Linked DNA regions of Homo sapiens: regions 1, 2, 3, 4, 5 and 7 are each reported to be linked to region 6. The links are microRNA targets in miRTarBase. Many come from high-throughput screens and were not tested one by one. Region 6 holds a microRNA gene; each other region holds the end of a gene's coding sequence.

Region 1 (4,262 bases), not on the chromosome of region 6:
ATGTACAACCTTTACTTGGCACCAGATCGAGCGGAAGTGGGTATACAAAAGTAGAAGTGGGTTTCAGAGAAGGAGCATACTTATCTGACAACTTCTGATATCTTTCACATGCAGTTATAAGGCTAAGAAATACCACTATTGGCCGGGTGCAGTGGCTCACGCCTGTAATCCTAGCACTTTGGGAGGCCGAGGTGGGCAGATTGCTCAAGCTCAGGAGTTCGAGACCAGCCTGGGCAGTGTGACGAAAGCCCATCTTTACAAAAAATACAAAAATTAGCCAGGGGTGGTGGCATGTCCGTGGTCCCAACTACTTGCGGGATTGTGGCGGGAAGGATCACTTGAGCTCTGGAGGTCAAGGCTGCAGTGAGCTGTGTTTGCACCATTGCCCTCCAGCCTGAGTGACAGAGTGAAACCCTATCTTAAAAAAGAAAGCAAAAAGAAATAACCACTATTTAGCAGATCTCTTTTGGAGGAAGATAAAAGCTTGTAAAACCATTTATCTTTGGAGGAAGAGAAGTACAAGAATATTGATTAGGTAGATGCAAAATTATAATAACCTTTTTTCTCTTCAAAGATACCAAACCTGGCTAAAAAACTTGAAGAAATTAAAAAGGACTTGGATGCCAAGAAGAAACCCCCTAGTGCATGAGACTGCCTCCAGCACTGCCTTCAGGATATACTGATTCTACTGCTCTTGAGGGCCTCGTTTACTATCTGAACCAAAAGCTTTTGTTTTCGTCTCCAGCCTCAGCACTTCTCTTCTTTGCTAGACCCTGTGTTTTTTGCTTTAAAGCAAGCAAAATGGGGCCCCAATTTGAGAACTACCCGACATTTCCAACATACTCACCTCTTCCCATAATCCCTTTCCAACTGCATGGGAGGTTCTAAGACTGGAATTATGGTGCTAGATTAGTAAACATGACTTTTAATGAGTAGTGTCTTCTTTATCGTTTGCGATTTTTACTACCTTTTTTCAAAAGAAAAATTGATGAGTTTTGTATAGCTGGTCAGATACAAATAATAGTGACTTCACAGTTTAGTAATTATAATGGGTACTTGTTAAACATTTGGTACTAAATTATGTTGCTGCAAAGTAATTAAAATTAGTATCTAGAGCTAGTTTCTGGTGAATTATTCATTTATTTTGTACTGTTGTTAGGCAGCTCTGTAGTTGCTAATTTAACCAATAAGTCAATTTGCTATTCATGAAGAAACGATTCTGAGAATCCTGTCAGGAATTGGGGAATGAAAAAATACACAAAATAATGGTCTTTGTCCCAGTAGAGTTCATAGTCTATTTAGTGTGCATGTTTTTCCTTAATGATGTATTTGATCTGACTTTTTTCCTTCTCAAAAGAATCATACTTGGGATTACAGGTACATTTGATGTTATATGATGGATAAGTGAAAAGTTTTTAAAGGAGATTTTATACCTTTTCACATTAAAAAAGGTATTTATATTATTACTTTGTAGTGATTGTCTTAAGAAAAAATATAGCCCAAATGTATAGTAAAATCAGCAGCTCAAGAAGAATTTCTGCTTCTCTTTGTAGTTGATGCTTTGTTTTTTCCTGCAGTCAGAAATTCCTTGTATTTGTCAAATGTATAATCAGCTTGTATTGTTTTTAAATTAAAAAAAAATTTGAATAATTAACTTTTGCCATGGGACAAGATACAAAAGTAATTTCATATAAAGGGCCTCTCCCACCCCTGTTCTCTGGCTCCTGGCTCCTGTTTGACAAGTTACTGTTACCACTTCGCCTTATACTTTTGAGAAAGAGTCTGTGCCTAAACAAACACGTGTAACACAAATAGTAACTATACATGGAGGTCTAGCCCTCGCCTTTTTTTTTTCTTTTTTTCTTTTTTAATGGAGATCATTCTATACCAGCATGTAAGTAGCAAGGAACCTCATTCTTTTTTTGGCTGCCTAAAATTTTTTTGAATAGATATAACATAATTGATTTAATCTGCTACTGGTGAATGCTTAGGTTGTTCTTTTGCTATTACAGTGATAACTTCAATCCTAATGTTATTAAGCATATCGATTCAGGGTATAGCTATAAGATGAAGTCCTAAAAGTATAATTTAGACTAAATACAAATACCCATTTCGCTAGCTGTTTTGTTTCAGAGGACTTGTTGAGCAGCTTCACTAATAATGCCATTTTTGAAGACATGGCAGGTTCAGAATCAATAAACTGGAAGAATTGTTCAGAGCATCTTTTTTCAGACAGTGATGACATTGATTCTGTATATGATAAAGTGATTCTGCTTCTCTTTGACAACTTGCATCTCTCCTACATGGAAGTAAGTTTTATTCCTGTCAATGTTGTCTTTGTGTGTGACAGATTAGGATTAAATTATGGTTTGACTTTTCCTAGCAGCGTGATCATGGGCAAGTGGCTTTTTTTTTTTTTTTTTTTTGAGACAGAGTCTCACTCTGCTGCCCAGGCTGGAGTGCAGTGGCACAGTCTTGGCTCACTGCAACTCCTGCCTCCCGGTCCAAGTGATTCTCGTGCTGCAGCTTCTCAAGTAGCTGGCATCACCACCACACCTGGCTAATTTTTGTATTTTTAGTAACGACGAGGTTTCACCATGTTGGCAAAGCTGGTCTCAAATTCCTGGCCTCAAGTGATCTGCCCACTTCAGCCTCCCAAAGTGTTGGGATTACAGGCGTGAGCCACTGCGCCCAGCTTTTTTAAACTTTTAGATTCATTTAATAGGTAAATTGCATGTCACGGGTTTGTAGCTTATTCTTTCAGAAACTCTTGCATTATCTGTAGACGTGGACGTAAATATCCACCTCATAGGGTTTTCATAAAAAATAATTGAGATAATGTATGTAATGTTTCACAGTGCTTTGCAGACTATCTAATAAATAGTAGCTATTAGTACAAACTTGTTGCTTTTTGGCTAGTTCTGCAGTCACTTTTGGAATCAGTTTATGAACCACACAAAAAGTTTGTCATTATTCTGTAGTCGCTGTTTTTGATACTGATGAAAATTTACAGTATCCACCTGGATTGTACCATCTGGCTCACAAGATTTGATCTTGAATTGTTAGCACAATGAACTACAGCCTCAAAGGATGAAAGTTTACCTTGCGGGTATTAAAAATGCTAGAAGCTTAGAAAGCTGTTTCCAAAGAGGGATTCCTTGTTACCAACCATGATAGCATTGCTGTGGTGTGTGTGGTCTCCCAGAGTGGCTGCTTTGGGATTGGAGGTCACTTAGCTATTAGAAGGATAGGTCTCTTTATATTATACCTTGTAAACAAGGCTCATTTGGACTTAGGGCTTCCTTTAGAGGTGACACTTAACCTTGGCAAGGGGATCATTTCTACCAGTGGGATCCATCTAGCAGATCAGTTCTTAAATTCGGCTTCATCATGTAAACTGCTACACAGTGCAGGCTGACTTTGCATTCACCATTCAGATACCCTCTCCTAGTTTTATGTTCTTGGCAGCAGTGAAAAGGACCTCAGAGTTCTCAGGCAAGATGATCTTCACTGAGCTATATGTTGGAGGAGCCCAGAACCATCATAGTTTTAGGGTGTAGTTGAAAATCCTTACTGTGAATGGGGTTTATGGCACTGAAAGTTACCCCTTCCCTGGGAATTTTGTAGGAACCCTTGCCACACAGATCAATGGAGTGGTGGGAAGAAGCACCACAAGACAGGCCTTTTTTTTTTCCTTTAAAAAATGTTTGAAAGCTCCTACTAATATGGTTAGGAAAACTTCTGCCACATCTGACCATAAAATGAGAGTTGCTCAAAATACTAGTGCAGATTACTCTGACATGTGAAATACAAGACTTCAGGATTGATGCTAGAAAAATACAGTGAACTTGAAAAGCTTATCCCTAAACTGTAATCCTCCCAAACAAAACAAAAACAAAGCAAGAAAAAAAGCCTTATTTAAAATTGTCAAAAGAGGCTGAATTTTATGAAGTTACCAAAAGTATATCTTTAGACTTTTCTTCTGATTTGGTATTTTATGTATTTAAGCAGTTACCTGATTCTGATTTAAAGGAGCAATTTTATTTCTCTTTTTCTAACTCATTTACCCAATGAGTTTGTGTGACTATAGAGAAAAGTAGGCTGTGTGGTTTTTCTAGTTGTCTATACACATTGCCTCATAGAGCATATGTACCCATGGTACACATGTGTAATGTTTTCATTTCCACTAACCCGTTCACTCCCTAGATACTATGCTGGTGTTTTTCTGCTGAGGTCTCCCACATTTTTAATGCCTTTTCTGA
Region 2 (4,256 bases), not on the chromosome of region 6:
TATAAAACTGAACCCGTAGGTACCGTCCTTAAGCAGGAGTACCCTGAAGGTGTCGATGTGGTCTATGAATCTGTTGGGGGAGCCATGTTTGACTTGGCTGTAGACGCCCTGGCTACGAAAGGGCGCTTGATAGTAATAGGGTTTATCTCTGGCTACCAAACTCCTACTGGCCTTTCGCCTGTGAAAGCAGGAACATTGCCAGCCAAACTGCTCAAGAAATCTGCCAGCGTACAGGGCTTCTTCCTGAACCATTACCTTTCTAAGTATCAAGCAGCCATGAGCCACTTGCTCGAGATGTGTGTGAGCGGAGACCTGGTTTGTGAGGTGGACCTTGGAGATCTGTCTCCAGAGGGCAGGTTTACTGGCCTGGAGTCCATATTCCGTGCTGTCAATTATATGTACATGGGAAAAAACACTGGAAAAATTGTAGTTGAATTACCTCACTCTGTCAACAGTAAGCTGTAAAAACAGAACAATGACATAAATCAAGGGAGAAAGAAAATGGGCACTTTATGTCTCAGAATTACTCAAATCAATTTATTTTTAGTTGGTAATGGATATAATATTTCTTAAAACAAAAGTAAGGTGTTAATGAATAGGTCTCTCCTTCTCCTCCTCCTCCTCCTCTTCCCTTGGGGGAAAAAAAAAAATGTGCTAATAAAACTTCCCTCCATGGCTAAGAGGGAAAACGCTTACATTCAATTCTTTAGTCATGGATGGTCTCGTTCCAGATGTTATTGTTCCAGGGAACTAAATTCATTCCTGATGCCAGATCTGATCGAGTCAGTATGTCTTCAGCTTGATCAGATTTTAAAATCAGTTTTGAAAGTGGTTCCCGACTTCTTTGCTTTGGGAGAATTTGGTCTTATGCTCATAAGCAGTTCATGAGTGACAAGTGTAGCAAAAGCCAGCCATATATTTTCAGAATCTATATCCTCAGGAAATGGTCCTTTTTTTTTCTATAAATCACCAACCAACTATCTAAATGGACATTTGGGGGAATTCCCTCCCAAATTTGATTTTGTTATTAGAAAAATGATTCCGTGAACACAGATGTGTTTTGAAGAAGTAGCACGTAATGGCTTTTATCTACCATCAACCTGATAAGGCACATGTGAAATGGAAATGTTCTCTTTCCTCTGAAGCAGCAAATTAATGTTGAAAACTTACATAGACAGAAAGTAGGTTTTGGAAAGGGAAACCACAGAGATTAGGGGGACTTAAAATTAATATAGGCACAGGAAAGAGAAAAGTGTGCGCTCCATTCTCAGTGGGGGTTCACCACAAAACACGGGCCCCAGGAGGGAAGCGCTGTCTAGGCACACGGCAAGGCCTTAGTAACAGCATGCTACACTGCTCGAGGTACGGTATGTCCCATCGCCCTGTGCACCGTAGAGACCTCAGTCATCTCAAGGAAGAATACATTTGCTTCTCCTTAGAGGCGTTCGAACTAGAAGCTATGCGTTACCTCTGATTCTGGAAACAGAATAGCAGCCACTCATTCTGCATTCCCATTTTTCTCTCCACGTGTTCTGGTGGAATGAGATGCTCCTTGGCACTATAGCCTGATGTCCCACATTGACCCACTGACCACACAGGAAAAGCAGCGAAACCTGCACCCTCTCTTCTGAGTCACGCCTGTGGCTCATCGGCTTCCCTCTTAACCTTTAGTGCCCTGAAGACTGCTGCCGCTGTCACCGTTGCGCTGAAACCCCATGGGCCCGTTCTGATTGAAGGTGAAGCCCACCAGATTATTTTTCAAAGTCTTAGGTTTCGGTGTATCTAACCTGCTCAGTAAATATGGACGCAATTAAAGATGCTCTAGGAAATTTGGGGACTGTATTTAATTTTTCTTTCCTTCCATCTGAGGAGCAAGGAAATCCTACTGCTGAATAGCTGTTAGTATCTATTTTACAAGATTTACTCATTTTCAGGTACCTAATGTAGCTGCTAGCATGCATGCACAACAATACAATTTATATGGTAAATGGAACCAAATAATGGCTTCACTGAATGTTATGGCTGCACTGAAGGGAAATGTCACGGTAAATAGCTGCCAAATTATGGATCATGCCGAAGTGTCACAACTGCACTAAAGACAAATAGCACTAGAGGCTATTGCCACTGTGACGCTTTTGAGTTATGAAGAAGGGTAGCGGCCTGATGCGAGGCTCTTTGTGTCCTCATTATAGCAAAGGGTTACTGGTGCAGGGGACTAGGAAAAACCCGTCCAGTGTGGTGCTTAGTTATTCATCCATCCCTTTCAGACCTAACAGCCACAGCCACACGGAAAGAGACTTTGCCTCACTTTTACATTCACAAACAAACAAAGGAGGGGGGAGCAGGTTTTATGAATGTAACTGTGCACAGGAAATGACTGGTAATGGAAAAAATGTTGTAATAAAATAATCTAATCAAAGAATATTATTAAATTTAACATAGTCTATGTCCAAAAGGCTTAGTTGCTTCTTATGCAGATAGATGTGTGAAATCTAAGCAGTAATGTACTTTCTCCCTTTGTAAAGACTTGGGGAGTAAGGACATTACCAACTAAATTGCTTCTTCGAAACTGAAGTGAGTCCCGGTTTGTTTCATTTTAATGGGAGGGTAATAAAGATGAAAGACCAACATTTTAACTGATGGATCCCTTAAGCTACAGAATAGAAATTTATTGTGTTTTGAGGGAATATACTAAATGCAGCTATGTAAAAATAAAATTCAAACGCCCAGGATTAAAATAAAATATAATCTGAAAACCTCATGTTCTCTCTTTCCCCAAACTAAGAAAGTGCACTGCATGCTGTTTTCACTTATTCTTAGAAAACAAGCATGAAAGATTCCGCCCATTCAGATAATGCCAAAAATATGTTTAAACTTTTTTTTATTCTTTTGAAAAATGATTTGTAAATTGAGGGTCATAGTTCAGCATCAGTTTCATCTTCTGGGATTATTGTTCAAGACCAGCCTCTAATGGGAGGTGAAACGGTACGATGGTCTCAACACCTTTCTTCTGAACTGTAATACATATCACAAAAAGTACATCCATAATTCAGGGCAATTGTCAGTCTTTTTAGAGAAGGGGCCAGGGTGGAACAATCCCAGTGAGTAAATTATTTCTCAGCGTGGACTTCTCTGCATGTCGGGCTTAAGGTCACCAGCCGGGCAGGGTGGAAGGAGCTTGCCTCTTTGAGAAACCAAGGAGTCCCAGTGATCTGTTACCATTTGGTTATGACTTCTAAAGAGCCAAATGCTATTCCTTCAAGCCTGTTTTGCAGGCAGAAAATACCAGCAGTGTCATTTAGGGGTTCCTTTGATGATGACTACTGCTGTTAACTGACCTCAGCATTAAAAAAAAAAAAATTCAGGGAATAGTTTGCAAAGAAATGAAGGAAGTTTTGCATGATATATTCTATAACTTGTCATTATATGATTTCATCTGGATGAAGTTCCTCAGGAGTAGGATAGAGCCTCTGTAAATGGTCATTAGTATTACATTCTGTGTTTATCTAATGAAAGTGCAGTGACAAGTAGCTGCTTCTTATTAAAATGAAAATCCTGCATTATGTACTTGAGGAACATTCCAGCTAATGAGGATGTAATGTCCTCAGTACAACGCAGACCTTCTTTTTGTGTTCACCACCACAAGATGCTGGAAGCTTGACAAATGATATCATTTAAGACACATGCCTGCCTTAGGGACCTGGTTTTTGGCTTCCTGTTTCTGGCTTTTATTTGGGTAACGTTTATAATGGCCACCCGACTTGTACCTGGGTAATGTTTTAACCCCTTCCCCAGAGTTCTCAATTAGCATGAATTTACTACAGTCAGAGTTTCCTTTAAATTGGGGTGGGGGTGCTAAGCACTGAAAATATCTTTCTTGATTACTTTACCATGTGGACATATGGGATAAATACTGTATTTCAGATTTACATAAAAGTAGATTAGTAATGCACAGCTTTCAGAATAAAAACTGATAAAAAAGACCAAGCACTATCAACTTTGGACAGTAATTTCCTAGGTGTTAAACAAGTTTTCTGAATACAATCTGGATGCAAAACGGCCTGATTTGATGAATTCATAATTTTCTTCTGTATACTTTCATTTTATTAAATATTTTATTACTTGGTTAAACACAAGAATTATCTATGTAAACTTCATGGGCTTTTTTGTTGAAAGTTAGATGTTCAGTAACTAATTTCCCAGTTATGGCCCAGAATTAAACATTTATGATCATATTTCAGAAGTCAAAATACAAA
Region 3 (4,262 bases), not on the chromosome of region 6:
TTAAAAATGGTTTAAAATTGTTTAAATATCTACTAGTGGAAATATCAAACTAAATACTTACACGTCAAATCATTTTTTTTTTAAGGTGACAGGATGTCACTGCGTTGCCCAGGCTAGCGAGCTCAGTGGCCCAACACAGGAGTTTGGAACTCCTGGGCTCAAGGAATCCTCCCTCCTCAGTCTCTCGAGTCGCTGGAACTACAGGCGCGCACCACCGTGTCCGGCCAAATTTTAATTGATTGACTGATTGATTTTATTTTATTTTATTTTTTTCTAGAGATGGGGGTCTCGCTATCTTGTCCAGGCTGGTCTCGAACTCCTGAGACCAAGCGATCCTCCTGCCTTGGCCTCCCAAAGTGCTGGGGATAATAGACGTGTTCCAAGGCGCCTGGCCCCAAATCTTTGTCTTGGTAATGGAATAAAAAGCGGGGTATACAGTTGGCGTGTAGGGCTTAAATCCTCAGATGACGCCAAAGTTTCTAACCAATGATTTCAAACGGCTTCCCATTAACTTCTCATTAACCTAGCGAACAAGAAAGTGACACGCTGAGATTTTGGATCCTTTTTTTTCCGAGGCTCTCCCTCTGGCAGAGAAAGAGGCGCACAAACAAGGGGTGTGGCCCACTGGCAAATCAGTCAGACCATCCCGAATCAGGGACAAACACTGGAAAGCAGAGAGGAAAAAGAAGTTTCGCGTTTCCGCTCCTCGGACTCTGCTCCAGAATTCAGCTTTACCCGTCCGAAGCAGCGGCGTCAGAACAAGCTACTAAACATCACCCGCACCGCCTCCCGGGAGGGGCTGGGTCCCCTCTCGGCTGTGACACCGCCGGGCAGTGGGAGCTGAGCGGGGCCAGCGCCTCTCCCCCGAGGGAAACCCGAGGCCCAGAGGGGCCGAGGGAGCCCGTCACGAAAACTCCAGAAGTTCCTAAGCAGGGACCTGAACCAAAGGTCTCTGCCCACGGCGCGGGATGTAGTGCCGCCGCTCCACTTGAGAAAGGGGTCCCCACACGGGAGTAGGGCGAGGGGGTCGCCTCCCGCCGCCGAAACCAGTCCCTCCCTGAGTCGCCAAGTCCCGAGTCCCGCCCTCTCCCCGCAGGGCTCCCGGAGAGGACCTCCGCCTTCTCGCTTCGCCCCTCCGCCTCGCTCAGGAGGAGACCTGCCACGGCCCTGTCTGACCTGTCGCCGCTGGGACTGAGCCGGCAGCGCGAAGCCTCCATGCCCGCCACCGAGGAAGCCCCCACCACGTACACACTCTTCCCCGCCGTCGCTAGAGTGGCTAGGCTGGCACGCCGCCGCGTCCCGCCTCCTGGCAACCGCGTTCCACACTGTCGCCGCCGCCGATTGGTCCGTGTTCTCGTGGCTCCTGTCTCATTGGCTATTGCCGGGGCCCAACGATGCGGGAGGGTTGCTAAGGGGCGGGAGGCGAGCGGGAGTTAAACGCGCCTGCGCGGGGGTGGGGTGACGCGAGCTAAGGCTTGGTCCTCTGGAGCGCCTCGCGGGGCCGGTACTGAGCGGGAAGACTTTGTTTTTGCCTGGGCCTCGCCCGCCGCGCGGCCAGCAGGCGAGTCCGGTCAGAGGAGTCTCCTATACCGCACCAACCGCCACGCACGCAACGGCTCCTCGCACCCCCGCCATTTTTACCGAGCCCACCCAGAGCGCTTCCCGAGGTCTGCCCTGTGAGGATGTACAGACCTCTGCCGCTTCCCATTCTGGCCCCTGCCCTGATACCAGCGGCCTTCGTGGACCCCCTCTGGTACCCTCTCCACTCCATCAGTCACTCCCAGTGAAACGCATCTTCCATAGGCTGGCCTTGAACTTCAACTGCACAGAACTTAAGCTTCCCCTACTCCAGCCCAAGCTTTTAGGTCATTCCTAGACCTGCTCTACAGACTCCCCTAAAGCACACGAGGGAATCCAGAGACTTTAATTTTTTGAGACAGGGTTTCTCTCTCGCCCAGACTGCAGTGCAGTGGCCCGGTCTCAGCTCACCGCAACCTCCGCCTCCCAGGCTCAAGCGATTCTCCTGCCTCAGCCTGTGGAGTAGCTGGGATTACAGGCAGGGGCCACTACTGCCTGGCTATTTTTCGTATTTTTAGTAGAGATAGGGTTTCACCATGTTGGCCAGACTGGCCTCTTAACTCCCGACCTCAAATGATCCACCCGCCTCAGCCTCCGAAAGTGCTGGGATTACAGGCGTGGGCCCGTCCTGGAGACTCTTTCCATCTACCTTTCTACCTCCTGTGGGCCTTCCTCAAACATCCATAGCCCACCGTGAGAGCCCCTGTCTAAATGTGTACTCTTGTCTCCAATAAATCCCGTCCCCAAATGTCAGTCCCTTTCTCCCTACCGACATGCACATTATAGTCCCTACAAAACATCCTGAGTCCTGACAAGTCACTGCACAAATGGCTTTATGGCGTTCTAAGGTCAAAGTTGTTTCCACATTGGTTTTGAACCTACAAGTTAGTACTTTAGGAGGCACACGCTGAGAGTGGACCGTTACACTGCCTGGGTCAGCGTGCACTCACTGTGTGACCTGTGCATGGTTCATTCTCTGCATCAAACTCCCATCTGTAAAATATACAGTAATCCCTGCTTGATCTAGTTGGGGCTGGACCTGACACAGTAGGTCCAGCTGAATGAATGCTAAATGAATGGGTTTAATGAGATGCTACTTGTCTGAGTAAAAGGCCGAGACATTCGGTTGACTGGGGAAGTCCTTCTGCATTAATTACAATAAGTAATACTCATTGAAAACTTTCCTTATTTACACACAGTTGAACAGTTATTCTAAGAAACCATTTTCCCACCCTATTTAATATTGACAGATTTCTTCAGTTAGAAACAAAAACTCAAAACACACGCAATCCTAAAGAACTCATCTATGTCCCCCTTATCTCCCCTCATCTTATGTAGTCCCTAAAACAGGGCTTGCTGCCCTTTCTTCTTCTTGCCTTTTCAGCAGATGAGTCAAGGTTGCAGAGGTGGCAGTCAACCATAGAGTCACAGAGTTTGATTTTTTTCCATCCATCAGGTCGTAGAAGCTGCCACTGAGCCTGACAAGAGTTGGTACTCAAAAATGCAGAATGAATTAGTTTGAATGAGGTGATTAAGGATTAATGAGTAGTGGTTAAGGAAACAAAGACCATTAGTGGATGGGGTAATATTGCTGTATTACTGATGGAAGCAGGATTCTCTAAAAAAACTTTCTGCAGCCATTTACTTACATACATTTTAAAGAGTTACTACAAGATATTTTAAAAATTTAAACAGTTAATACAAGAAAAATATGAAGTGAATAGTTCATGACACTAAACTGAACTGTTCATGACACAAAGTATCTTAGAAAACAAATCTCGGCTGGGCCAGCACTTTGTGAGGTCAAGGCCAGCAGATGACTTGAGGTCAGGATTTTGAGACCAGCCTGGCCAACATGGAGAAACCACATCTCTACTAAAAATACAAAAAAATTAGCCAGGCATGGTGGCTGGTGCCTGTAATCCCAGCTACTGGGGAGGCTGAGGCAGGAGAATCGCTTGAACCCAGGAAGTGGTGGTTGCAGTAAGGTGAGATCATACCACTGCACTCCAGCCTGGGCAACAGAGCAATATTACATCTCAAAAACAAAAACAAAAACCCTAGGAATTGAATTCCTTTATGACTCCAGAAAACATATCTCTTTTCTATTGAGATTACTGATGGCAGTCAGCTTTTCACAAGGAATTGGCTTCTGCTCAGCTTCCCTCTCTCCCTGAGGTAAGCAAGCAGGTGCTGTCGTCTCCTCCATGTGACCTTTATTCCATACTTGTCCTCGGGGGTGTCTTTAACCAGAACAGGTCCAGGCTCTGGGCTATTAGGAGTGCCAGTGTGAAGAGTGCAGCTTAGAAGGCTGTTTTCCTTCTGATCTTGGGGAATGAGTTCTTCCTTCACAGACGATGACTCTGGGGTCTGGATATCAGGTGGAATGAACACATAAGGTAAGCTCTGAAGTGCCTGCACTGACATGTTCCCACAGCTTTGGGGACTGAGCACTGGAACTAAGGGTCTTCTGGAAACATCCTTTTCTGATTCACTGGGGCACTCTCGGATTAAGGGGATCCCCAATGTCTCTGAACTGGAAGATTGCGGACTCTCAAAAGTTAGATGTGGAAACTTGGAGGTGGTAGGTTTTCGACTTGAGTGTCTCGCCCGGTTTTGGTGTTTCTGGTAGGCTGGGAACAAGCTTCCTGCTGCTGTATCAAAATCAGGTGATACCTTAAAAA
Region 4 (4,262 bases), not on the chromosome of region 6:
TTTTTCTTTTTTTTTTGTTTTTTTCTTTTTAGATGGAGTCTCGCTCTGTCGCACAGACTGGAGTGCAGTGGCGCGATCTCGGCTCACTGCAATCTCTGCCTCCCAGGTTCAAGCAATTCTCCTGCCTCAGCCTCCCAAGTAGCTGGGACTACAGGCACCCACCGCCACACCTGGCTAATTTTTGTATTTTTAGTAGAGACGGGGTTTCATCATATTGGTCAGGCTGGTCTCGAACTCCTGACCTTGTGATCCGCCCGCCTTGGCCTCCCAAAGTGCTGGGATTATAGGTGTGAGCCACAATGCCTGGCCTATTTTTCTTTAAATCACAAAGAAACAGAACAGATAGGTTTGCAGTAGGTAATATATACAATAATGTTAAAGAGATACTTCATATTAATTCTAATCCTGCAAAAGTGTTAACAATTTATCTTAAAAAGTCAATCAAGTTTAACATATTTTTATTTCTCCAGTAAAAGTAACTTCACAACCTACTAAAAATAAAAATTTAACTGCATTCAGTTTCTGTTCATTTTTCTATTAAAGAAAGCACAAGATAAAGGATAGCTGTGTTCAAGTAAATGTGTAATTATGACACAGACAGAATCAAGTACGTACATAAAATGTTAAAACATGAAAATGTATAGTTCTTTTACCATTTCCTTTCTGAACTCATAAAATATAATCAGAAAAATTAAAAGAAACATGTTTTATTATTGTAAACTTATATTTTATTTAATTAATAATGTTTTGGTGTGTTAGTAATTTCTGTAAAGTAGCACTCCTTAAATAAGTTCCTAAAAATAATATTGGAGCCTTGAACATTTAATCTCAGCTAAAAAAATTATTCTAAAACTGTCATGATAAAAAAGGTTACAAAATTTCTCTTTATTCTAGTCCTGAATTCCTTCTCCAGAATTTTAATACAAAACGAATTTTCAGGCACAAATAGTCACCAGATAATGCATACCGTAATTTAGCAGACTTAACCAAACAATAAACACCCCTACAAAAGTGTCACTATTTTATCACTTTGTGCTGTACTCTTCTCCCTATACATCTTTAATAGTGGTCACTTCTACTTTACTTCTAGCATTCAATTTAGACATCTCAACCCCAAATTTAATAATCTGTTTTATCAAACATTTGTTTTGAGAACAAAATTTCTATAAATTATCTGACAAATCAAAGCAGAACCTTTAATTGTAGAACACAAATGAAAAATAATATACAAGAAACCTTATCTCTTCAACTTCAAGGCTAATACCTGGGTGTTGGAAAACTGGCCAAAGATAAATAAATTTTACTATATTTATTTTTCTGCACTGGGTCAAGATTTCTATTATAAATGATATGTTACTTACGATACTGTCGTTTCAAAAAAGGGCTTTCCAAGAAGCCTTTAGTAAAGTTCTTCTATGCTGGGTATGTACTTGGTTCCTGTATGTTTTAATCTGAACTATTCGAGAATTACTTATTTGTTGAACATAGTCTATTAGAAAAAAATACTAAATCGCTGGGTGCGGTGGCTCACGCCTGTAATCCCAACACTTTGGGAGACCGAAGCGGGCTCATCACGAGGTCAGGAGATGGAGACCATCCTGGGTAACACGGTGAAACCCCGTCTCTACTAAAAATACAAAAAAAATTAGCCGGGCCTGGTGGCAGGCGCCTGTAGTCCCAGCTACTCGGGAGGCTGAGGCAGGAGAATGGCGTGAACCCGGGAGGCGGAGCTTGCAGTGAGCCGAGATCGCGCCACTGGACTCCAGCCTGGGCGACAGAGTGAGACTCCGTTTCAAAAAAAGACAAAAGAAAAAATACTAAATCACAATTTTTATCAAACAGTTCAAAGTTTTCAACAATATCTATAAATGTATTCTTATACACCTGTATTCCTGATAGTATTACTCTGTAGTATGTTCGTAGCCAAGTATATGAAGTTTCCAATTTTCTGGGGAAATATTCAGTGTACTGAAAGTTAACTGCATTTAAAATCATTATAAACCAAAAAACACGTCAAATAGCATTATCGTATTATTATTTTTTGTTTGTTTGTTTTGAGACAGAGTCTTGCTCTGTCCCCTAGGCTGGAGTGCAGTGGCATGATCTCAGCTCCCTGCAACCTCTGCCTCCCGGGTTCAAGTGATTCTCCTGCCTCAGCCTCCTGAGTAGCTGGGACTACAGGTGCACGCCACTGCACCCAGCTAATTTTCGTATTTTTAGTAGAGACAGGGTTTCACCGTGTTGGCCAGGCTGGTCTCAAACTCCTGACCGCAGGTGATCCGCCCGCCTTGGCCTCCCAAAGTGCTGAGATTAAAGGCATGAGGATTATCATATTCTAAATGGCAATAGAGCACTAAGACTATAAATAAGTCTCAGTAGTAAAAACTAAACCTAAAAGAAAAATGTATCCAATGTGACACATTTTCAATATTTACAGAGCATCCTAAATATGGAATTTAAAAAATTACACAAGGTAGAAGCAAACAATCTATGAAAATATTAAAAATTACTATTATAACTGATTATATCATTAAGTGCAAACTCAAAAGAACTCAAGTATTTGTTGTAGGAAAAGAAAGTATACCTTTCATATACTTCTGATTCACCCAGTATGAAAACTAGTCATATTTTAAAGAAATAAATAATTTTATTTTTTGAGATGGAGTTTCGCTTTTGTTGCCCAGGCTGAAGTGCAATGGCGAGATCTCCGGCTCAGCGTAACCTCCGCCTCCTGGGGTTCAAGCAATTCTCCTGCCTCAGCCTCCCGAGTAGCTGGGATTACAGGCATGTGCCACCACACCTAGCTAATTTTGTATTTTTCGTAAAGATGGGGTTTCTCCATGTTGGTCAGGGTGGTCTTGAACTCCCAACCTCAGGTGATCTGCCCGCCTCAGCCTCCCAAAGTGCTGGGATTACAGGCGTGAGCCACCATGCCTGGCTTAAAGAGATAAATAATTAAGGGATCCTTAGAAGAAATGGAACAGTTTGTAAGAAAGATAAATTTCAGACTTTTTGCTAGGAGGGAAAACTATTAGGGCTACATACTCTATAATTCTAGAACCATTTCCTTCAGAATGCTTCTGGGTGACCTTTTCAAATTAAATTTTTAAAAATACAGTAAAAGATAGCAGTGTCAGTTGTTTGTGGGTGAAAATATAAACCCAACACTGGATATAATACAGATCAGAAAATTTTATTATTGAGATTACTTAAGGTTGTAAAAAAAAAAAAAAATTTACCTTTTGCCTGTTCTCATACTGACATGTCACCACTCCATTTCTAAGGATTCCAAGTCAATTAATGCAGAACTTTTAAAAGTATTAATGATCTCTACTGTACCAAACTGTGCATGCTATAGTTCATCAATCTTACTCTTCCAATAAACCTAGAGATTTAAATAAGATAAAAATGACAGCAGTCTCCATAATCTTAAAATCTAGGTGAAACAAATGTCCTTATGGTCCAATAATGTGTATAATAAAATGTAACCAGGTCACCAGACCAACATACTAGTGTGTAACTTTAATAATTTCTAGCAGCAAAACACCTGAAATAGCCAATAACAAATGTTTTCATTGGATTGTACATTCATTTCTTTGTGAGAAATAATTTTAAAAAGTACTCTAAAGTATTGTTCAACTGCAGGCAAACATGAAAGATATCAAAGATCTTGCTTTTCTCCATCTTTCCCAATGGAATCAGGTGCAACTGGAACCTTATTAGTTTCAACAAAAACAGATTCAAAGGCAGCTTCCTGTTCATCCAAAGAATCAGCAACCGTGGCTCCTTTAGTTAGTGTTGGGTTGGTAAAAGATTGTTGCTGCTTGGAAACTTTACTTGATTCCACCGTTTTCCTACCTTTTCTTTTGCCAAGAATTTTGACATAATTCGCAGGTATAAGTCCTGTTGTTTGGCCATCAAGGCTAGCCAGAAGCCAACCACGCACTTTGGGTTGTTGTTCTGATGGAAAAAAAAGACAGTCTTGTAATTACAATATACTTTGGAGGTCCAACAGAATAGTAATGGTAAAATATCACATTCAGGAAAATCTGTTATGCTTACATAGTAGATAACAAATAGTACATGCATATATATTCAAAATCAAATGCTGAGTAGGCTTAACAGTTCTAGGGTCCATTCTTCTATTTTTATTTTATACTTACTAAATATTTCCTTCCACCTTGAAGAACATAAAGTTTATTATCAGTTGGTCCATTCATAGAGTAGGGAGATTTAGTTCTCTCAAAACTGAAAACTAACAT
Region 5 (4,000 bases), not on the chromosome of region 6:
CCACTGACAAGACCTTTGGGCCCTCGTGCTAGACAGGCCTTCGAATCCACCTGCTCCAGCCCAGAGAGCAGGCCCAGGCCGTGCCTCCCACACCGCAGCCGACCTCAGAGCACCCTGCCTCAACTGTGAGTTTTTTCTTGGCAATCCTCTGAAACGGAAAGGGTATCAGTCCTGACTAGGGCGAACGTGAGGTCCATTCTGCATCTCCATCCACCTTAGCTGTCTCCTTGGAAAAGGACAGCAAGGGAGTTTGAGGTGCACTGACACAGTCATTTCTGAACAGTGAAGAGATGACAGGTAGGGTGGTCCCCCTTGAAAAGTCAGCCAGAAGTAGCTGTATCTGATGCACTAGGTGGCAGGGAGTGAGTCTTGGAGTAAATGGGACTGAAAACGTAGAAAAACCAAATAAATGCCAAAGAGACTATCCCTATGGAGAATACCTAGAACATGGGTCTTTGAAGTGTGGAAAAATGAAAGAAATCCAATTTGACCAGGGCCTTTAGTGCCAAAGAGATGGCTAGCAGGAGAGTGGTGAGAAAGGAGAACTGGAGAGTTCACATGAGCGGAAATAGGAAGAAATGGATCCAAATCCAAGTGAGAAAAAGCAGGAGACTTAAAGTTAGCCTGGCAGGATGATGAGAAAAGGACATCTTGTCCTAGGGTAGAGGCGAGGGTGCAGATCTGGGGGAAGAAGGCTTATTGGGAACAGTTTCTCAAACTAGACATTCAGAAGTCAATACAAGGGCCAAAACCAAAATGTTCCTGGAGGTACCTGTTTTTGAAAGAGGTGGGAAAGGTGACATGGATTAGGGGTCTCCATCCCCCAGGCCACAGGCCAGTACCAGTCTGTGGCCTGTTAGGAAGCGGGAGCACAAAGCAGGAGGTGGGCGGCAGGCGAGTGAGCATTACCGCCTGAGCTCCTCCTCCTGGCAGATCAGCAGAGGCATTAGATTCTCACAGGAGTGCAAACCCCACTGTGAACTCCGCATGCAAGGGATCTAGATTGCACACTCCTTATGAGAATCTAATGCCTGATGATCTGAGATGAAACAGTTTCATCCCAAAATCATCTCCCCGCTGCTATCCCCCTCCATCCACTGGTGGAAAAATTGTTTTCCACAAAACCGGTCCCTGGTACCAAAAAGGTTGGGGACTGCTGACAAGGAGTATGAGTGTGAAAGGTGCAGAGGTCTATGCCAGGAGACAGCCATCCCCAATAGAAGCCCTCAGCTATGCACAAACTGCTTAATGTCATTCAAAGAAAATAATGTCGCCCATTTTGCCTCAGAGCTTTAGCCCCAATCACAGCAACTGCTATTTCCTGACGCTTACGCACCAGAGATGGTGATAAGAGCACTGCACGCATTATCTCAGTAATCCTCATAACAGCCCAATGAGTTGGCATTACTATCCCCAATTTATAGATGAGGAAACAGGCTCAGAGAGGTGAAGTAATCTGACCAGGTTACATAGCTAAGTGGAGTCAGGATCTGAATCCAAGAAGACTGTCTCTACAGCCCATGCTCTCAATAATCCATCCTGGGCTCCTCCAGAACCTGTGGGAAACTCAGAGGATGCCAAATGATAAATTCCTAAAAACCTCACTCCATTATATATGGGAGGAAAGAGAGGACACCTCTGTGAACCTGGAGTGATTCATCCCATCAGGGCACTTAGAGATGCTCCTCTTTGAAAGGGGAAAGAACCATCCCCAGATGTGGGGTGATCCCACATCTGCTGTATGTTTGAAGGTGATAAGCAATGGACAGTTCACCTCTGGAATGCCTGAGGAAAAGAGACCCTCCCCACCATCTCTGAGGGGCAGCCCTATTTCTTGGATACATTAGGGAAACCCTGCCCTAGGATCTGAGGGAAACACAGTCTCCACTCCAGGTGCCTGCTCACTCTCCTGGAGCTTCTGGCCGTCGCACCCTATTGCAGCTCCTGGGTTTGGCTGGGGCACAGGATTAACCATCCCCAGGAAATGCCTCCCTCCGGTCCAGGCAGGGATCCCAGCATACACACCCCTGGTGGTGGCAGTGGGGGAGAAAGGGGGAAGGTGGAATGCTTCCTTCTCTCCAGGTCAGGGAAGAGATCTGGGGACCACCTGGGGGCCCTCGCCCCTCCTGCCTCCTTGCTGGGGAAGTGCCCAGTCCAGTGCCCCCTCCATGGCCACCTCCCTCCCTCTAGCTGTGCCGGGGCATGAATCAGCTCTCACAGCTTGTTAAAGCTAGACCTCTTGTTTTCATGCCCTCACCTCAGGAAACAGAGTTACAACTTTTCCAGCTCTACTCAGCAGGGGGCCAGGGTCCTCACTTTATAAACATCCCCAGCCTGTGAGAGCAGAGGGCAGGGAGATAGTGTGAGACAGGAGCCCAGGGGAGAAAGACAGAAACTAAGACTCAAGGAGCAACGCAAAGCAAAGTCAAGGAGTCAAGACCAGAGTAGCTGAGCAGAGGCCAAGAAGGGTCTGAGAGGGCTGTGCAGCAGCAATGGCCCTAAGGATGCTCTGGGCTGGACAGGCCAAGGGGATCCTAGGAGGCTGGGGGATCATCTGCTTGGTGATGTCTCTACTCCTCCAGCACCCAGGAGTCTACAGCAAGTGCTACTTCCAAGCTCAAGGTAAAGTGGGGTGAAGCGTTAGGAATGGAGGAGCAGCAGAGAGGGCACAGGGAGGATGGGGCCTTACAGATGATCCCGTGTCAAAATACCCAGGCTTCCTCCAGCTGTGAAACAGGAAAGACAAACTAAATACGGGGATAGTGCGTACTTACTGTCTCCACCCCAGACCAGAAGAGCCTCTGCCTCTCATCAGCACTCCTACACCTACTAACATTTCCCGTTCTTCCCTAGCCCCCTGTCACTATGAGGGGAAATATTTTACCCTGGGTGAGTCTTGGCTCCGCAAGGACTGTTTCCATTGCACCTGTCTGCATCCTGTTGGCGTGGGCTGCTGTGACACGTGAGTGACCAAAGATGGCCAGAGAGAATGACTCTGATATGAGTGACTGAGGGATGACCAGGGAGTGACTAGATTGCTGTGATGTAAGAATGAACAGAAGAGCAATACAAGATGGGCCAAACCTGAAGGGACCAACACTAGTGTGAAAGATAAGGCTTCAGGCTATAAATCAGGGGAGGTTGGGGTGGACCTGGAGAGAAAATACTCCTGTTATAAAACAAAAAGGCCCACATATGGTAGGTGACAGCTTAGTTAGGAGGACCAAGGGGCCACTGAAAGGGGCTCTGTGGGGGGAAAACTGTGAGAGAGGGAACATGTGGGCAGGGATAAAGGCAGCCTTTCACTGTGCTGACTCCTTCCCCTATCCTTGGTTCCCCAGGTCCCAGCATCCCATCGACTTCCCGGCTGGGTGTGAGGTACGTCAGGAGGCAGGAACCTGCCAGTTCTCCTTGGTGCAAAAATCTGACCCTCGGCTGCCCTGCAAAGGGGGAGGGCCTGACCCAGAATGGGGCTCAGCCAACACCCCTGTTCCTGGGGCTCCTGCTCCCCACTCCAGCTAAACTCAACTGATCATCCATCTGCTGACTGCTCACTGCTGCTGCCACTTCCAGGGAAACCACTAGCAGCTGCCAATGTATTCTGAACAAATAAATTAATGCTATAGCTGAAAGCCCGACTCTCACTGTCCACGACATTGGACCCCAGGTGGAAAAAGTGGGTCCCATTAGAGTCCAGGTGCTGAGTTCTCAGTATCCGGAAGGAACTAGCACCAGGGTGGGCCAGTTTCAGATGGTTATGGTGCTGGTGCTGGGGCCTGGGGCAGCATATGAGGCCAGGGTGGGGCTAGTAGGCAGCACCTTGATGGGCAGGTCCCAGCTGAAGGTGTCTACAGGTACTTGCTCAGGTCCTGTCCAGGTGGTAGGTTCGGGCTGTTCCACAGGGGGTAGGAGTACCAATCCTGGTTCTCGGGACGTTACAAATTCAAAATGCAATCTCCACTTCAAGGACACTATGGAAGAAAAAGATTAAGGTAGAAGC
Region 6 (4,262 bases):
TACAGGTGTGTGGCACCATGCCCAGCTATTTTTTTTTTGAGATGGAGTTTTGCTCTTGGTGCCCAGGCTGGAGTGCAATGGCGTGATCTCAGCTCACCACAACCTCCGTCTCCTGGGTTCAAGCGATCCTCCTGCCTCAGCCTCCTGAGTAGCTGGGATTATAGGCATGTGCCACCATGCCCGGCTAATTTTGCATTTTTAGTAGAGACGGGGTTTCTCCATGTTGGTTAGGCTGGTCCCGAACTCCCGACCTCAGGTGATCCACCCGCCTCGGCCTCCCAAGTAGCTGGGATTACAGGTATGAGCCACTGCGCCTGGTAATTTTTTGTATTTTTAGTAGAGACGGGGTTTCACCATGTTGGCCAGGATGGTCTCGATCTCTTGACCTTGTGATTCGCCCACCTTGGCCTCCCAAAGTGCTGGGATTACACGTGTGAGCCACTGCACCCAGCCCCGACCTCTTAATACTATCATACTGGCCACACCTGAATTTTGGAGGGGACACAATCAAACCATAGCACCACCTTTACTGACTTGTGTCTAACTTAAATTCTTCTTGTACATTGTAAAGTACTTAATAATCCAATTGGCGTGAGTTACTTTATTCTTATTTCACCACATCCATTATACTTGGGAGGCTAGGTGACTGCTTAGCCCAGTGAAATACACACTGTCAGAACTCTTTATTCCTCATCTAATGATAATATTCTGATTGGGCTTGGTTTCCTCCCAGGGTGGACAGTGTTTCCCAGTTATGTTAGTCCCCATTTCAGGCCCCTGCTGGTGACTGAACAAGACCATTGGCTGATTTGCTCTCAAGTCAACCACTGGTGATTCCTGTAAAAGTACATGGCAACAATGGAAATACCATTGCTGTCTCAGAGGAAGGGATGGACTTGTGCCTGTGGGTCTTCCTATGACCCTACTGTTCAGCCATGTGTTCTCACTGGGCCCAAATGTCAATTGCCTTTGTGGGAACCAAACCCCAGACCTCACAAATGGACAATTAATGGAGCTCAGTCAATTAAGTAACTGGGCCTTTTTGCTGGTCCTGGCCATGCTTTCAGCCATTCAAAGAACATCATTAAATTTAAAATAACATAGCAATTCTTAGTATTAAAGTCTACAACCTTGAGAGATATCAGAGCATGGGTTGAAAATAGCATGCAACAAGACCTCGCTCTCCCTTCTCTTCCCCCTCAATCTACAATAAGGTTTTCTGGAGCCACCCATAATTCAAGGTGGTGGCAGGGACCTCATTACTCTCATTTCCTGCCACAAAAATCCCCCATGGTGAGAGACAGGACATTGTACAGTCTTCTCCACTCAGGCAACAGATTTCTTCCGCTTCTTCCAATCCAGCTCCTATGACAATTGGCTGGGGTGGCTGAGGCTGTGGGGCTGGAGTCAAATCCAAAATGAAAGACCAGCACCAATTCCTCCTACCACCCAAGCCCAGGTCCTGAGGATGCAGCTTCATACACCACGGCTTGTGTGAAGACTCTGGGGACTTTTGACATAGTTGTTCGGTGGCAGGCAGGCTAAGCAATCCTCTGTGTATATTTGATAGCACCCTCTTTCCCATCACAGCGCATGTAACACAAAACACTCACATGCAAGCTCCTCTCACAGGCATGCCAATTCAGGCACACTAGCTGTGAGGCCACTCCTCTCTTTCCCACTCAAAAAAAACCCATAGTGGATTAGCCGGGCATGGTGGTGCATGCCTGTGGTCCCAGCTACTCGGGAGGCTGAGGCAGGAGGATTAGTTGAACCCAGGAGGTGGAGGCTACAGTGAGCTGAAATTGATTGCATCACTGTACTCCAGCCTGGGCGACAGAGTGAGAGCCTGTCTCAAAAAAAAAACAAAGCACAGTAGGATGCAAGGGAGTAAGTGGTGAGTGATTTATGATAGGGATAATCCTGAATCCACTGGAATTCCCTGCTCCTCTCCTCTCCTCCCCTCCCCTCCCTTCCTCCATTCCTTCCTTCCTTCCTTCCACTGGAATTCCCTCCCTCCCTCCTCCCTTCCTTCCTTCCTTTTTATTTCTTTCTCTCTTTCTCTCTTTATTTACTTTCTTTTTCTTTCCTTTCCTTTCTCTCTCTCTTTTTTTTTTTTTGTGAGACAGGGTGTTGCTCTGTCACCCAGCCTGCAGTAGTGCAGTGGCTCGATCAGGGTTCACCGCAGCCTCAACTTCCCAGGCTCAAGTAATCTTCCCACTTTAGGCCACCCACCGACCAAGTAGCTGAGACTACAGGTGTGCGCCACAGCACCAGTTAATTTTTTCTTTTTTGAGATGGAGTTTTGCTCTGGTTGCCCAGGCTGGAGTGCAAAGGCGAGATCTCAGCTCACTGCAACCTCTGCCTCCTGGGTTCAAGCGATTCTCCTGCCTCAGCCTCCTGAGTAGCTGGGATTACAGGCATGCGCCACCATGCCTGGCTAATTTTGTCTTTTTACTAGAGACGGGGTTTCTCCATGTTGGTCAGGCTGGTCTCGAACTCTTGATCTGAGGTGATCCACCTGCCTTGGCCCCCGAAAGTGTTGGAATTACAGGCGTTAGCCACCGCGCCCGGCCACTAGTTAATTTTTTTTAAATTTCAGTAGAGATGAGGTCTCACTATGTTGTTCAGCCTCGAATTTTGTTTCTCAAAGTGAAACACAATTATGAGTAATAAAGGACCCAGAATCCCTTCACAGCCATAACAGCATGCTTGACAACTGCTGCTGCCTAGCTTGGGGGTTTCCAGCCTTGAGGTTGAGCCTACCCTAGGCTTAGCAGGAGGCCAGAGCTGAGCTGAGAACAGAGCCCAGGATGATTATCACTCCTAATCCATGAGGTACCAAGATGTGGTTCTGTGTGACACCTTGAGATGGCTGAGTACTCTCAGTCCCTATTTATTCTTAGCAAAGCAAACCACAAGCCTGCAAGCTGCTTGATGACTTAGGGCATCAGTGTTCAGAAGGTCTCTATGGGGACTGATGTCCTGAGGTGACTAGACGCTTCCAGACATCAGTGCCCGTGGCACCCAGATGACACTTCTCGCGAGGCTCCCGTTTTTCTGCAGACTAGGCTGTCTCTTCATAACAGAGCCTAGTTTCCATCAAAATGCCCTGACTTCTCGAGAGGACAAGTGCTAATCTTTTTTATTTTTTCCATGCCCACGGCCGGTCAGAGAAGACCTATCTCTACCTACCATGCTCCAGATAGCCTTACCCTTGAGCCAGATTTGTCTAAGATGGTGATGGTGATAACAAACACATCTCGGGTGTACTGATGGACAGGAAGTCAGGAGAGACAATGACTTGCTGCCCTGCTATGCTAATTTGTTGGCCAATTCATAGGAGGTGGCAGCTGAAGTTGTAATGATAACTTAGAGGGCAGTGGCAGCAGGAAAGTTTTCTAAAAATGGCTTTTATTACAAGGCTTTCCTGAGTTTGGCTATACCCAGGCATTATGTCATTAGGAAAAACTGATGACACTCAATAGAGAAAAAGAAATCTGTTCCTAAAGCGGAGGCTTTCTGAAAGCTATTAGCTGTCTCCTTGAAATCACAACATTGAAGATTTCACAGCAACAGCAACACATTGTAAGGAAGCATTAGGAGATGTTTGCATCTCTGCCTTCTTTATTACTCATTTCTCTAGTAGGAGAAAGTGGGGGAGGAGAGGAAAGATGGCAAGGTTTTTTATTATTATTATTCATTCACACTTAATAAAGCAAAGCATAACGCTGATTTTTTTTTTTTTTTTTTTTTTTTTGAGATGGAGTCTCACTCTGTCGCCCAGGCTGGAGTGCAATGGCGTAATCTTGGCTCACTGCAACCTCTGCCTTAGCCTCCAGAGTAGCTGGGATTATAGGCGCACACCACCACGCCTGGCTAATTTTTGTATTTTTTAGTAGAGACGGGGTTTTGCCATGTTGGCCAGGTTGGTCTCAAACTCCCGACCTCAGGTGATCTACCCGCCTCGGCCTCCAAAAGTGCTAGGATTACAGGCGTGAGACACCATGCCCAGCCAACCCTGATATTTAAAAATAACATATCTCGGTTGCAGTGAGCCGAGATTGTGCCACTGTACTCTAGCCTGGGCAATGGAATGAGATCCTGTCTTAAAAAAAAAAAAAAAAAGTAAAAGAAAAAAAGAGTTGACTACACTAAGATGGATGGTGAAGATGTTTTGCTGCTATTTGGTAAAATAATAATAATAATAAAGGGGTCAGCGTGGTGGCTCACACTTGTAATCCCAGTACTTTGGGAGGCTG
Region 7 (4,255 bases), not on the chromosome of region 6:
CTGCACCCAGCCCTCCCTGACCGGGGTGGCAGAGAAGAGGCCCTGGGTGTCAGGGTGGACCAGGCATGATGGGTGGGAGGGGGCTGGAAGGGAGAGACCAGCCTGGACAGCTGGTCCTGGGGGCTATGGAGGGTCAACGGTCTGTGCGGTTTCAGAGAGGCCCGTGCAGGGCAGGACAGCTGGGACAGCAGGTGAGGTGCCTGGGTCAGTGCTGATAGGGCAGTCAGGCCGCCACTGACCTGAGCATCCTGCAGGGGGAGGAGGCGGCCAGGCGCTCTACATCGATGGGGACCTGAACCGGGGCCGCACAAGCCACTGCGACACCTTCAACAACCAGCCCCTCTGCTCCGAGAACTTCCTCATTGCTGCCGTGGAGGCCTGGGGCTTCCAGGACCCTGACACCCAGTGACGGCCTGTGCCACGGTGACTGAGCCGTGGTGGGGCGGTGGGCCGAGGCTGGGCTGCCGCCTCGGGCAGCAGAGAGCAGATGAAACCCCCATGTGGTAGGCAGGGTTGGGGGACGGCAGGACCCCATGGCCAAGCCTGGCGTTGCCTGGACCTGCTGCTGCCTCTACCTGGGGTTTGGGCTGGGCTTCCCCAGTCCACCTGCATCTGGGTCAGAGCTGGAGGGCCTGCTGTGCCCCCAGCCCCACCCAGAGCTGGCATAGGAAGTACCTTCCTCCTCCGTGGAGGCTTCCATAGCCCAAGGCCTTGGGAGTGTCTGGGTCTTGCTGCCCCTGAGCCTCTCTAGGCAGCCTGAGCCCCTGGGGTGGGAGTACAACGGCAGTGGGAACGTGCAGCTAAGGGTGGGCCTGTGGTGCCCCCTGCTGGTGCCGCATAGCATCGCGCCCTCCTGAGCAGGGCCCTGCAGCCTGGCTGGCTGGCGACTGAATCCCAGCGTAGATCCCGAGAACAGACTGGCACCCTTGGGCCTGCCCCCTGGCGGACCCCACCCCCTGTCCTGGGCGTTTGCCCCAGTTCCCTCCCCAGGCCTCCTGGGCCACCTCTCACATTAACCCTTCTTGGCTGCCTCTGAGGCTCCCCTGGGCTGCGTTTGGGAGCTGCTGGGTGGGAGGAGGAGGGTGGGATTTGTGCTGGGCTCCACCCCCAGGGAGGGTGGGAGCTGGAGGGGGATGTCACATGTCCTTGTGTTTCTGCAGAGCCTGAAGCTTTTGCTGGGCCTCCCTGCGTGTTCCCATCTGAAGAGGTAGCCCCGGGAGAGGCCCTCAGGGACCGACCCAGACCAGCAAGCTCCATTTCCAGGGGTCTGCCCAGAGAAGCCTGGACCCAGGGGGCTTCTCAGCTCCCCTCCCTTCCAGCCCAGGCCTCCTTGAGCTCCTGTAGCCTCTGCAGCTGCCCATTTCACCTCTTTGTCATTGCAATGACCTGGGGCCCAGGGTCACGCCCAAGCCCCTCTTTGTGGCATGCTCATCTCAGTGCAGCCCCAACTGCTTCTCTGCACCAGGCCCCGTGCCCTCCCCTGGCCCTGGCCACACAGCACCTCCTTGGCCACCTTGCATGGATGCATGTCCTCCCTCTGTCCCTCTTGTGGTGCTGTGGCTGGCCACGTGTCAGGGTTTTCTGTGAGCCTCTCACCTTACAGCCTTTGGGCCCCTGGGCCCCTGCCCTGCCTGAGCCCTGCGCTGGCCAGACGCAGGTAGGTGCCAGGGGAGGCCTTGCCTCTGGGCACTATAGGGGGCAGCCCCCTGCCTTGTGACCTCCCTCCATGCCCCATGACCTCCTTCAACTCGTCTTGAGGGTCTGGTCACCACGGAGGGGAGAAGGGAGACACAGAGGCCCAAGTGGCTGTTCTGGGACCATGGAAGCCTGGGTCACAGAGGCAGGTACCAGCAGTCCTGCCCCCACCCCCGTCCCTGCTGGCCTCCAGCCAGTGCCACTTGGAGTCCCCTGCACCGTGCCACTTTCCATCCCCACACCATTGCCTGCTCCTCCCATGGGGCTTTAGCCTCCCCTGACCATCTGCTCATGTAGCCTCTGACTGGGCGCACAGTGGTGCAGGAGGAAGGACCGGGAACCCTGTGTGGCTTTGGGCAAGCTGACAAACCCGTCTGGAACTCAGTTTCCCCAGCTGTGAAATGGGGCCAGTCCCCATGCCCTGCTGTCCTCCTCACAGGACTGTTGAGAGGCTCGCAGGGGGATGGGGTGAATCCCTCTCACGGGGAGAGGTATGGGAGGGAAGTCGCCACTCATCTCAGCCCACCGCAGCCCTCCAGGCCCCCGCCTGAGCCCCTGAGGCCCTCATCTGTACCGCCAGCTTTGGTGTTCATTAAACATGGTCTTGCTGCATCAACTCCAGGGCTCCAAGCTGAGTCTGATCTCTTCAGCCAGAGGGGCCTCCGGGGGCTTCCTGGGCCTACAGCCAAGCAGGTGTGGGAGGCTGCCCGCTGTAGTGCTCACCCACATTCTATGACTGGAATGCTGCAAGCCTCTTCCAGAGGGAGCCCTCCAGGAGCAGGGAAGTCATATCCGTGGACCATTTGTAGGTTTCCCTCTGCAAACTTCCTGAACTGGGTGGTGATTTTTCTGGCGAGTTAAGTCCAGCAGGTTCTGCGTGGCTGCCCCCAGGGGGCCCCACCCGGGCCTTCCAGTGATCTGGACCAGGAAGACGGATTGCTGCTGGGTCATGATTTCCACATCATGAGCGAAGTTCTTTGTTTTTTGTGTGCATGCAAAATATTGTTTCTTTAAATTTAATATCTTTTCCTAACTTTTCTACTAACCTAGAAGGTATGTGTGATTATTATCTTTTTTATTCTTATCACTGTACTTGTTAGTATCTGATATTAGGTATTCCCAAATAGAACATAATTTATTTTGTTAATGTTCTCTATTTCTTCTTGATTATTTATTAGCTTTGGATGTTAAAAATTAGCCAAAAGTGGCTGCTCTGCCTATGAAGTAGCCATTCTTTGTTTAAAAAAAAAAAAAGCCAACATTTGTTGAAACTGCATAATAAATTATCATTTGTTTTTAGAAACATTCAAAGAATTATTTTTTGATTTTTTTTTTTTTTGGGACAGAGTCACCCAGGCTGGAGTGCAGTGGCATGATCTTGGCTCACTGCAACCTCCGCCTCCTGGGTTCAAGCGATTCTCCTGCCTCAGCCTCCTGAGTAGCTGGGATTACAGGCATACGCCACCACGCCCAGCTAAATTTTTTTTGTATTTTTAGTAGAGGCAGGGTTTCACTGTGTTGGTCAGGCTGGTCTTGAACTCCTGACCTCGTGATCCACCCCCCCCTCAGCCTCCCAAAGTGCTGGGATTACAGGCGTGAGCCACCGCGCCTAGCCTATTTTTTAATTTTTTTGAATAGACCACTTTGTGCTGAATAAATGTTTAACATTTATTTTTAAAACAACAATTGCACCTAATTTAAAATAGTTTATTAAATGAATTCATTAAAGCAGATTATATGCCTTTGGGGCTTCAGAAAATCAGTTTAAGCAAAAGAACTTATGAGAGTAAGTCATTTGTACTTGAATTTTTTCAGAGTTTTAATGAACTAAAGTATTTTAATTTTTCTATTTTTGTAAGCCGCATACTTCATTTTTTGAGTTTTTCAGTGGAATTTGTTTTAAAACGTTTTGAAGATTTCAGAGGCCTTCATATTTCTCTTATCCACTTTCTGAACCCATAAAGCCTTTGCAGTCTCCTTGAGTAGTTTATATTTAGTAATTTAGTTGTGTACCTTTTTATTTTGAAGTAATTTTTGATTTGCAGAAGAGTTGCAGAGACGGTACAGGGTTTCCATGTACCCTCACCTTCCCCCAAGTCAATATCAAAACAAAGAAATAAGCATTGTTGCATTGCTGTTAACTAAACCACAGGCCTATTGAGATTGTCCCTTTTTTTTTTTTTTTTTTTTTTGAGACAGAGTCTCGCTCTGTCGCCCAGGCTGGAGTGCAGTGGCGCGATCTCGGCTCACCGCAAGCCCCGCCTCCCGGATTCACGCCATTCTCCTGCCTCAGCCTCCTGAGTAGCTGGGACTACAGGCACCTGCTACCACACCCGGCTAATTTTTTTATATTTTTAGTAGAGATGGGGTTTCACCGTGTTAGCCAGGATGGTCTTGATCTCCTGACCTCGTGATCTGCCCTCCTCGGCCTCCCAAAGTGCTGGGATTACAGGCGTGAGCAACCGCGCCCAGCCGAGATTGCCCCGTTTTTTTCCCACTGTCCAGGAATCGATTTAATTTTTACAGTTGTTTACTTTCTCACATTTTTACTAAGTCCAGA

What was found. Region 6 holds the annotated microRNA hsa-miR-766-3p (ACUCCAGCCCCACAGCCUCAGC, at 1,387-1,408, opposite strand). A microRNA usually pairs through its seed, bases 2 to 8, with sites in the 3' UTR of a target mRNA and lowers its output. Matches are read on the target gene's strand: a 7mer-m8 pairs with bases 2 to 8, a 7mer-A1 pairs with bases 2 to 7 and ends in A, and an 8mer does both.
Region 1: the mRNA of STMP1 is a reported target of hsa-miR-766-3p. Seed matches in the 3' UTR shown: 7mer-m8 at 2,454-2,460.
Region 2: the mRNA of PTGR3 is a reported target of hsa-miR-766-3p. The part of its 3' UTR that is shown has no 7-base or 8-base seed match.
Region 3: the mRNA of RHNO1 is a reported target of hsa-miR-766-3p. Seed matches in the 3' UTR shown: 7mer-m8 at 3,586-3,592.
Region 4: miRTarBase lists PEX13 as a target of hsa-miR-766-3p. Seed matches in the 3' UTR shown: 7mer-m8 at 1,761-1,767, 7mer-A1 at 907-913 and 7mer-A1 at 464-470.
Region 5: miRTarBase lists RGP1 as a target of hsa-miR-766-3p. Seed matches in the 3' UTR shown: 7mer-m8 at 3,513-3,519, 7mer-m8 at 2,721-2,727, 7mer-m8 at 2,577-2,583, 7mer-A1 at 2,076-2,082 and 7mer-m8 at 54-60.
Region 7: the mRNA of TBC1D24 is a reported target of hsa-miR-766-3p. Seed matches in the 3' UTR shown: 7mer-m8 at 623-629, 7mer-m8 at 1,123-1,129, 7mer-m8 at 3,052-3,058 and 7mer-m8 at 3,915-3,921.

The regions. Positions count from the first base shown.
Region 1 is chr7:135,673,517-135,677,778 of GRCh38, forward strand. It overlaps STMP1 (short transmembrane mitochondrial protein 1), which reads left to right. Exons shown (of 3, transcript NM_001130929.2): 3 at 575-2,900. The coding sequence ends at 649. Among named protein-coding and RNA genes, the nearest start is that of STMP1, 13 kb to the left of the region's middle.
Region 2 is chr18:75,197,625-75,201,880 of GRCh38, reverse strand. PTGR3 (prostaglandin reductase 3) reads left to right here. Exons shown (of 2, transcript NM_175907.6): 2 at 1-4,256. The coding sequence ends at 465. Among named protein-coding and RNA genes, the nearest start is that of PTGR3, 9.4 kb to the left of the region's middle.
Region 3 is chr12:2,887,903-2,892,164 of GRCh38, reverse strand. It overlaps RHNO1 (RAD9-HUS1-RAD1 interacting nuclear orphan 1), which reads right to left. Exons shown (of 3, transcript NM_001252499.3): 3 at 2,641-4,254. The coding sequence ends at 3,706. It overlaps TULP3 (TUB like protein 3), which reads right to left and starts at 1,274. Exons shown (of 11, transcript NM_003324.5): 1 at 1,177-1,274. The coding sequence starts at 1,217. RefSeq lists a silencer at 1,379-1,428 and an enhancer at 1,699-1,878.
Region 4 is chr2:61,048,170-61,052,431 of GRCh38, reverse strand. PEX13 (peroxisomal biogenesis factor 13) reads right to left here. Exons shown (of 4, transcript NM_002618.4): 4 at 442-3,960. The coding sequence ends at 3,662. Among named protein-coding and RNA genes, the nearest start is that of SANBR, 16 kb to the left of the region's middle.
Region 5 is chr9:35,752,622-35,756,621 of GRCh38, reverse strand. It overlaps RGP1 (RGP1 partner of RAB6A GEF complex), which reads right to left. Exons shown (of 9, transcript NM_001080496.3): 9 at 1-3,971. The coding sequence ends at 3,748. It overlaps MSMP (microseminoprotein, prostate associated), which reads left to right and starts at 2,346. Exons shown (of 3, transcript NM_001044264.3): 1 at 2,346-2,622; 2 at 2,854-2,962; 3 at 3,342-3,632. The coding sequence starts at 2,493. The coding sequence ends at 3,522. RefSeq lists an enhancer at 2,533-3,732.
Region 6 is chrX:119,645,377-119,649,638 of GRCh38, forward strand. It overlaps MIR766 (microRNA 766), which reads right to left and starts at 1,472; the gene lies at 1,362-1,472. The region is part of intron 5 of SEPTIN6 (septin 6); the gene reads right to left. RefSeq lists an enhancer at 2,526-2,705.
Region 7 is chr16:2,500,550-2,504,804 of GRCh38, forward strand. It overlaps TBC1D24 (TBC1 domain family member 24), which reads left to right. Exons shown (of 8, transcript NM_001199107.2): 8 at 255-4,255. The coding sequence ends at 409. Among named protein-coding and RNA genes, the nearest start is that of ATP6V0C, 11 kb to the right of the region's middle. RefSeq lists an enhancer at 1-362.